Homo sapiens: one gene and its partner. The protein of the gene in region 1 purifies or fractionates together with the protein of each later gene. This does not show direct contact. Each region holds a gene or a part of one and is shown in the gene's direction. Other genes may lie near its edges. The genes, in order: ECD and MYH7.

Region 1 (3,914 bases):
GTTTTTAGCTCCTACGTATAATATCATAGACTTTCCCCTAATTTATCAGAGATTGTAATAGTGAAAAATTATAAGCAACCAAAGTATCCATCAATAATGGATAAATGAATTGCAGTGTACTTATATGATAGCCTGCTATCTAGTAGTTAACCAGAGATGAACTATATTTACATATATCTGATTTAGGATTTTTCAACCTCAGTGCTACTGACATTTTGGATCTGATAATTTATTGTGAGGGACTGGCTTGCACTTCATAGGACATTTAACAGCATCCCTGGCCTCTATCCAGTAAATATCAATAGCACTTCTCCCTCATCCCCCAATCATGACAACCAAAAATGTCTCCAGACATTGCCAGAGGTACCTGGGCGGCAAAATCGTCCCTGGTTGGGAACCACTGATCTAAATGGGAACCACTGATCTAAATGAATAGATTTCAAAAACATAATGCAGTGAAAAAAAAAAAAAAAGCAAGTTATAAATACGTACAGTAATGGGTACCAAAAAAAAAAAAAAATAGAACGAATGAGTAAGACCTACTATTTGATAGTACAACAGGGTGACTATAGTCAATGATAACTTAATTATACATTTAACATAGAGTGTAATTGGATTGTTTGTAACTCGAAGGATAAATGCTTGAGAGGATGGATACCCCATTCTCCATGATGTACTTATTTCACATTACATGCCTGTATCAAAACATCTCATATACCCTATAAATATATACACCTACTATGTACCCACAAAAATTAAAAATGAAAATGAAAAAGAATAAAATATATACCGTGTGGATGTTACACATATAAAAATTTTAAATATACAAAATACTATACAGGCTGGGCGCAGTGGCTCACACCTGTAATGCCAGCATTTTGGGAGGCCAAGGCGGGTGGATCACGAGGTCAGGAGTTCAAGACCAGCCTGGCCAATATGGGAAACCCTGTCTCTACTAAAAATTCAAAAATTAGCTGGGCGTGTTGGCACGCCCCTGTAATCCCAGCTGCTCGGGAGGCTGAGGCAGGAGAATCGCATGAACCCTGGAGGTGGAGGTTGCAGTGAGCCGACATCGCACCACTGCACTCCAGCCTAGGTGACAGAGCAAGACTCCGTCTCAAAACAAAACAATACATTATTTATAGATACATATATATTCATTTATTCAACAAATATTTATTGAATGCCTCCTATGTGCCAGGCCCTATTCCAGGTACTGGGGATATAATAAATGAACCCAAAGTGTCCTTGTCCTTATAGAGCTTACATGCTAATGTAGGAGAAAGACCGCAAGCCATTATGTAATATTAGGGGGTGGTAAGTGCTATGAAGAAAAAGCAGTGTGTGGGGTAGAGGGGTAGAGACTGCTCTTCTAGATAGATTAGTCAAGGAAGGCCTTTCTAAGGAAGTTTTCTTTGAAAAGAGACCTGAATGAAGTGAAGGAGTGAGACATTCAGTTATTTAGGGGAATAACATTCCAGCAAAAGGACAGACAGCAAATACAAGAAATAGAAACAGAAATATATATACATACAGAGAGAGAGAAAAGTGCCGAAGTATACTTGAGAAAGCAGTCACCTCTGGGGAGCAAGACAATGGATTGGGATGGGTGGCAGTGGTCATCAAAGGAAACATTAGCTTTCTCTACAATTTTTTTTTTTTTTTTTTTTTTTGAGATGGAGTCTCTCTCTGTCACCAGGCTGGAGTGTAGTGGCACGATCTCAGCTCACCGCAGCCTCCACCTCCCGGGTTCAAGCGATGCCCCTGCCTCAGCCTCCTGAGTAGCTGGGACTACAGGCGCGTGCCATCATACCTGGCTAATCTTTTCGTATTTTAGCACAGACAGGGTTTCACCATGTTGGCCAGGATGGTCTCGATCTCCTGACCTGTGATCTGCCCTCCTCAGCCTCCCAAAGTGCTGGGATTACATCTCTACAATATTTTTAAGGTACATGATAAACCTATACACTTTTTTGTCAATTAAAAATAAACAAATAGGCCGGGCACAGTGGCTCACACCTGTAATCCCAGCACTTTGGGAGACCGAGATGGGTGAATCACCTGAGGTCAGGAGTTTGAGACCAACCTGGCCAACATGGTGAAACCCCATCTCTACTACAAATACAAAAAATTAGCCGGATGAGGTGGTGGGCACCTGTAATCCCAGCTACTCAAATTAAAAATAAATAAATAGCCAGGCACAGTGGCTAATGCCTGTAATCCCAGCTACTTGCTGAGATAGGAAGATTGCTTGATCCCAAGAGTCAAGGCTGCAGTGAGCTGTGATCATGCCACGCACTCTAGCCTAGGCGACAGAGTGAGACCCTGTCTTAGAAAAAGAAAAAAAAGAAACTATGCACAGAGATACTTATGTGTTGAGTGAGTGACATAATGGTGACATGATTTGTTACATAAATTGATGGCACCCTGTCTGAACTATTAAGAATGGATCAAATCAAGTTGTATAAAGGACTTGCTTTAATTGGATAAACATTTGCATACCTTGCAAAATCACGTAGGTGATGGGGAACTGTCTCTACTCTGTATTATTAATATGTAAACGTTACTAGGAGAGAGAATAAACCAAATAATCATAACAAAAGGCAAAATAAAAATCATTCTGGAATATCAAATGCTAAAGAGAGTCATAGTGAGAAGGTAATAAACTTTCACTAAGGTTGAAGCAGAGATGTTAAAAAAAGAAAGATAATGGAAGGCTTCAGGGAGGAGGTATTTGAGTTAAGTCTTAAAGAATGAGGATTTTTTTTCTTTTTATGGAGTCTCTTTTTTTTTTGAGACGGAGTCTTGCTCTGTGCCCAGGTTGGAGGTGCAGTGGCGCGATCCTGGCTTACTGCAAGCTCCACCTCCTGGGTTCACGCCATTCATCTGCCTCAGCCTCCTGAGTACCTGGGACAACAGGTACCCACCACCACGCCCAGCTAATTTTTTTTTTTTTTTTTTTTTTTAGTAGAGACGGGGTTTCACTGTGTTAGCCAGGATGGTCTCGATCTCCTGACCTCGTGATCCGCCCGCCTTGGCCTCCCAAAGTGCTGGGATTACAGGCGTGAGCCACCGCACCCGGCCAACGGAGTCTCGCTCTTGTCGCCCAGCCTGGAGTGCAATGGCACAATCCTGGCTCACTGCAACCTCCGCCTCCTGGGTAATACAGACTTTGCAAAAGTTAAAGAACTTCCCTGGGTTCTGGTTTTCTCATCTGTAAAACAGGATTATTACCTTCTATAATAGTAACAAAAGGACTCAATAAGAAAATGTATTTAAAGTGTTAGCATAGCATTTAATACATGCTAGATAAATTTTAATTGATGCTTTCCTTCTGGATCTTCTTTTCCTCGTATATAAAATATATATTATATGTATATTTTTATGTATTTTTAGTACGTGTTTTATATGTATATGTACTATTAACATAATACAACTGTATGTACATATATATACATATATAGAGAGAGACCCTGTCTCTGCATGTATGTATAGAAAGAATTATACGAGATCAGTGGCTTCATAATGATGTTCCATGGAGCCTGCTTCAGAGCCAAAAAGGAAGGCCAATTGTGTAGATCTCTGAGCTTCTATCCTCCAATTTATTTATTTTTATTTTATTTTATTTTATTTATTTATTGAGATGGAGTCTTGCTCAGTCGCCCATGCTGGGGCAGCTCACTGCAACCTCCACCTCCCGGGTTCAAGCAATTCTCCTGCCTCAGCCTCCCGAGTAGCTGGGATTACAGGCACGTGCCACAATGCCCAGCTAATTTTTGTATTTTTAGTAGAGACGGGGTTTCACCATGTTGGCCAAGTGAACTCCTGACCTCAAGTGATCTCCCCGCCTTGGCCTCCCAAAGTGCTGGGATTACAGGCATGAGCCACTGTGCCTGGCCTATCCTCCACTTTAA
Region 2 (3,914 bases), on another chromosome or scaffold:
AGGGTTCATACTAACCTGCCTCTTATAGCTCAGTGATCTTAGGTTAGGGAAGTCCCCTAACCTTTCTGAGCCTGTTTCCCTCTCCCCAGCCAGGTAAAATGGCGGTGATGATGACCATGTCTGGTGTGGGGAGGAGCTCAGGGCCAATGGCCATGAAGCTTTTCTTAAATAGTTCACTGCTGTATTGGCATTCTTTGTTATCAGCAAACAGTAAACCATGACAGGTCCACTGGGGGTTTGGACATAGATGAGGCCAAGGGATGATGTTGAGATTGGGGTGAGGAGAAGGGCAAGGGTGGGGTTGCTTTATGGAGAAAGCTGAACCCACCTCCTGGTGCCCACCCCTCCCCAGGCGAAGAACGCCCTGGCCCACGCACTGCAGTCGGCCCGGCATGACTGCGACCTGCTGCGGGAGCAGTACGAGGAGGAGACGGAGGCCAAGGCCGAGCTGCAGCGCGTCCTTTCCAAGGCCAACTCGGAGGTGGCCCAGTGGAGGACCAAGTATGAGACGGACGCCATTCAGCGGACTGAGGAGCTCGAGGAGGCCAAGTGAGTTCTGAGCAGCCTGACTTCTGGCTGAGGCCCCTTTGCAGGCAGGACTCAGCCCAGCCCCAGCCTCAGCAGATCCCACACAGGCGATGCTTAGCTAGTGTTTGACAACACAGGAGGACTCTGCCCCGGCCCCACCTCCTTCTCCTCTCAGGGAAGCTTTTTGCTCGAATTATGTTTCTGATCCGAATATAAGACGAACAAAAGGTTTGTCTGAGGGCAGAGTGCTTCCGTCTGGGGCAGGGCACTGTGGCAGGGAAAGGCAGTGGGGAGGGCTGCAGAAGCCCATACCTCCTCAATGTCCATAGCGCAGAGGCTGGGCCAGGGTCAGAGGGTGCCTGGGTCTCCACGCCCTGCTGGGATCCTCTGCCTGATGTTCTCGGCCCCTGGGACCTGTCCTCAGGCTTCTCCAGCTACACTTCTGAGGTTTCAAGGATTGTCTTTGAGAAGGTTCATGTTGTTTCCTCTTGTCCCCATCCACACCCTCCATCCTCCCCACCCTCTGCCACCCTCCCCTGGGCAGGAAGAAGCTGGCCCAGCGGCTGCAGGAAGCTGAGGAGGCCGTGGAGGCTGTTAATGCCAAGTGCTCCTCGCTGGAGAAGACCAAGCACCGGCTACAGAATGAGATCGAGGACTTGATGGTGGACGTAGAGCGCTCCAATGCTGCTGCTGCAGCCCTGGACAAGAAGCAGAGGAACTTCGACAAGGTGGGCCCTGGGTGGGGGCCGCAGCCAGCATGCAGGGCAAGGGGGCATGAGGGGTTCAGTGAGAGGCCAGAGCCATCCTCCTTGGAGGTGGGGGAGGAGGGCTGAGCCCAGGCAGGTCCTGAGACAGACCCTGGACATGGGGCTGAGGCTGGGGGGCTGAAGAGTGAGCCTTGTCCCCGGGCAGATCCTGGCCGAGTGGAAGCAGAAGTATGAGGAGTCGCAGTCGGAGCTGGAGTCCTCGCAGAAGGAGGCTCGCTCCCTCAGCACAGAGCTCTTCAAACTCAAGAACGCCTATGAGGAGTCCCTGGAACATCTGGAGACCTTCAAGCGGGAGAACAAAAACCTGCAGGGTGTGCTGGGGGCCCAAGAGGCTGGGGAGGGGCTGCACTGGCAGTGTTCCCATATGGTGCCACCCAAGGGCTCCAAGAGGCGTCTGGGCAAAGAGGCGTGTCCCTCCAACTCCACTGGACCTCAGCAGCCCTCAACCGAGTTACCGTGTTCCCCACACAGAGGAGATCTCCGACTTGACTGAGCAGTTGGGTTCCAGCGGAAAGACTATCCATGAGCTGGAGAAGGTCCGAAAGCAGCTGGAGGCCGAGAAGATGGAGCTGCAGTCAGCCCTGGAGGAGGCCGAGGTGTGTGTGTGTGCAGGGCACGGGGTGCAGGGAGCTGAGCTCCAGGCTTTTGGTCCCTGTTCTCATCCCCCGCTTTGTCCGTTTTGTTCACTGTCCCATCCCCAGAGCCTAGGACAGAGCCTGGCACATAGTAGGCATTCAGTGAAGATTTGTGGAGTGAATGAATGACCAGTCACTGAACTCTCTTCACATAAACATTTTACCCATTGCATCTTAGCTGAGCTTCCCATTTCCACATACCTCCCGGTTCCCACCTCTGCCTCCCTCTGTTTTCTTTTATACTCTATACCTGATTGCCTCTGTTTCCTTGGCAACACTTTTCTCTTCATTTTCCTCCTTGTCTTCATAGCTGGCTCTCCCCTGTGAGGGCCTGAATCACTTTCTCTTAGGCTTATTTTTATTTTCTCTTAGATTCTCTTTTCCTCCACCTTCTGCTTCTTTGAACCACTTACACCACTCTTGAAGTCACTTCGTATCCATGATTAGTGAGCAGGCCCCCACCCTGCCCTGTGCCCTGACTGTCTGCCTGCATCCCCTCCCCCAACCCCTTCCCAGGCCTCCCTGGAGCACGAGGAGGGCAAGATCCTCCGGGCCCAGCTGGAGTTCAACCAGATCAAGGCAGAGATCGAGCGGAAGCTGGCAGAGAAGGACGAGGAGATGGAACAGGCCAAGCGCAACCACCTGCGGGTGGTGGACTCGCTGCAGACCTCCCTGGACGCAGAGACACGCAGCCGCAACGAGGCCCTGAGGGTGAAGAAGAAGATGGAAGGAGACCTCAATGAGATGGAGATCCAGCTCAGCCACGCCAACCGCATGGCCGCCGAGGCCCAGAAGCAAGTCAAGAGCCTCCAGAGCTTGTTGAAGGTACTCACCCAGAGGGGACTGGCCTCCACGTGGCCTGGCGAAGCAGTAGTGTCTTGATACAGGCACCAGATTCCTCCTGCCCCTAGGTTACTGCAGGGACCTCTGACAGGTGCCTTTAGTGAAGGGAACCGAGGCTGGCTCCCTGCTCATGCCCACTCTCCTGATCCTCAGGACACCCAGATTCAGCTGGACGATGCAGTCCGTGCCAACGACGACCTGAAGGAGAACATCGCCATCGTGGAGCGGCGCAACAACCTGCTGCAGGCTGAGCTGGAGGAGTTGCGTGCCGTGGTGGAGCAGACAGAGCGGTCCCGGAAGCTGGCGGAGCAGGAGCTGATTGAGACTAGTGAGCGGGTGCAGCTGCTGCATTCCCAGGTGAGCAGCTCCCCTGCTCATTCCTGAAGGGAGCACAGGCTGGGGCTCAGCAAGCAAGGCTTGAGAGCTATGCATAGATGCTCAATGCTTTTCCTGCTCTGCCCAACCCTCCCCCAACCCAGAACACCAGCCTCATCAACCAGAAGAAGAAGATGGATGCTGACCTGTCCCAGCTCCAGACTGAAGTGGAGGAGGCAGTGCAGGAGTGCAGGAATGCTGAGGAGAAGGCCAAGAAGGCCATCACGGATGTAAGTCCCCCACTCCACCGACCCGATCCAGACCAGTGTCTCTCCGTGGGCTGGGCAGCAAGTGTGTGAGGACTTGACCAGACCATGTGCCACCTCTCTCCTGCACACAGGCCGCCATGATGGCAGAGGAGCTGAAGAAGGAGCAGGACACCAGCGCCCACCTGGAGCGCATGAAGAAGAACATGGAACAGACCATTAAGGACCTGCAGCACCGGCTGGACGAAGCCGAGCAGATCGCCCTCAAGGGCGGCAAGAAGCAGCTGCAGAAGCTGGAAGCGCGGGTGCGGGAGCTGGAGAATGAGCTGGAGGCCGAGCAGAAGCGCAACGCAGAGTCGGTGAAGGGCATGAGGAAGAGCGAGCGGCGCATCAAGGAGCTCACCTACCAGGTGCGACGGGCGGTGACTCCAGGCAGAGCCCTGGCACCATAGCCACAGTGACAACCAGCTGAGGAGAATGAAGAGTTTGCTCTTAGCCTCTTCCAGGGCGAGGATGGGAATGCAGCCCCCGTTTCACTTTGCCTAGCCCTGCCCCACTCT

Evidence for each region.
Region 2: the proteins of ECD (region 1) and MYH7 purify together in Homo sapiens (affinity purification with mass spectrometry; 2 studies listed by BioGRID and IntAct, with this or other methods). This does not show direct contact.

What each region holds. Positions count from the first base shown.
Region 1 is NC_000010.11:73,140,392-73,144,305, reverse strand, and holds part of ECD (protein ecdysoneless homolog), read left to right. Parts: intron 1-2,820; coding exon of another isoform or gene 2,821-2,919; intron 2,920-3,914. UniProt on the Homo sapiens protein: Regulator of p53/TP53 stability and function. Inhibits MDM2-mediated degradation of p53/TP53 possibly by cooperating in part with TXNIP. May be involved transcriptional regulation. In vitro has intrinsic transactivation activity enhanced by EP300.
Region 2 is NC_000014.9:23,414,845-23,418,758, reverse strand, and holds part of MYH7 (myosin-7), read left to right. Parts: intron 1-352; coding exon 353-549; intron 550-695; exon of another isoform or gene 696-772; intron 773-1,072; coding exon 1,073-1,256; intron 1,257-1,385; exon of another isoform or gene 1,386-1,440; coding exon 1,441-1,606; intron 1,607-1,750; exon of another isoform or gene 1,751-1,766; coding exon 1,767-1,891; intron 1,892-2,446; coding exon 2,447-2,755; exon of another isoform or gene 2,756-2,758; intron 2,759-2,926; coding exon 2,927-3,130; exon of another isoform or gene 3,131-3,138; intron 3,139-3,252; coding exon 3,253-3,378; intron 3,379-3,488; coding exon 3,489-3,764; intron 3,765-3,914. UniProt on the Homo sapiens protein: Myosins are actin-based motor molecules with ATPase activity essential for muscle contraction. Forms regular bipolar thick filaments that, together with actin thin filaments, constitute the fundamental contractile unit of skeletal and cardiac muscle.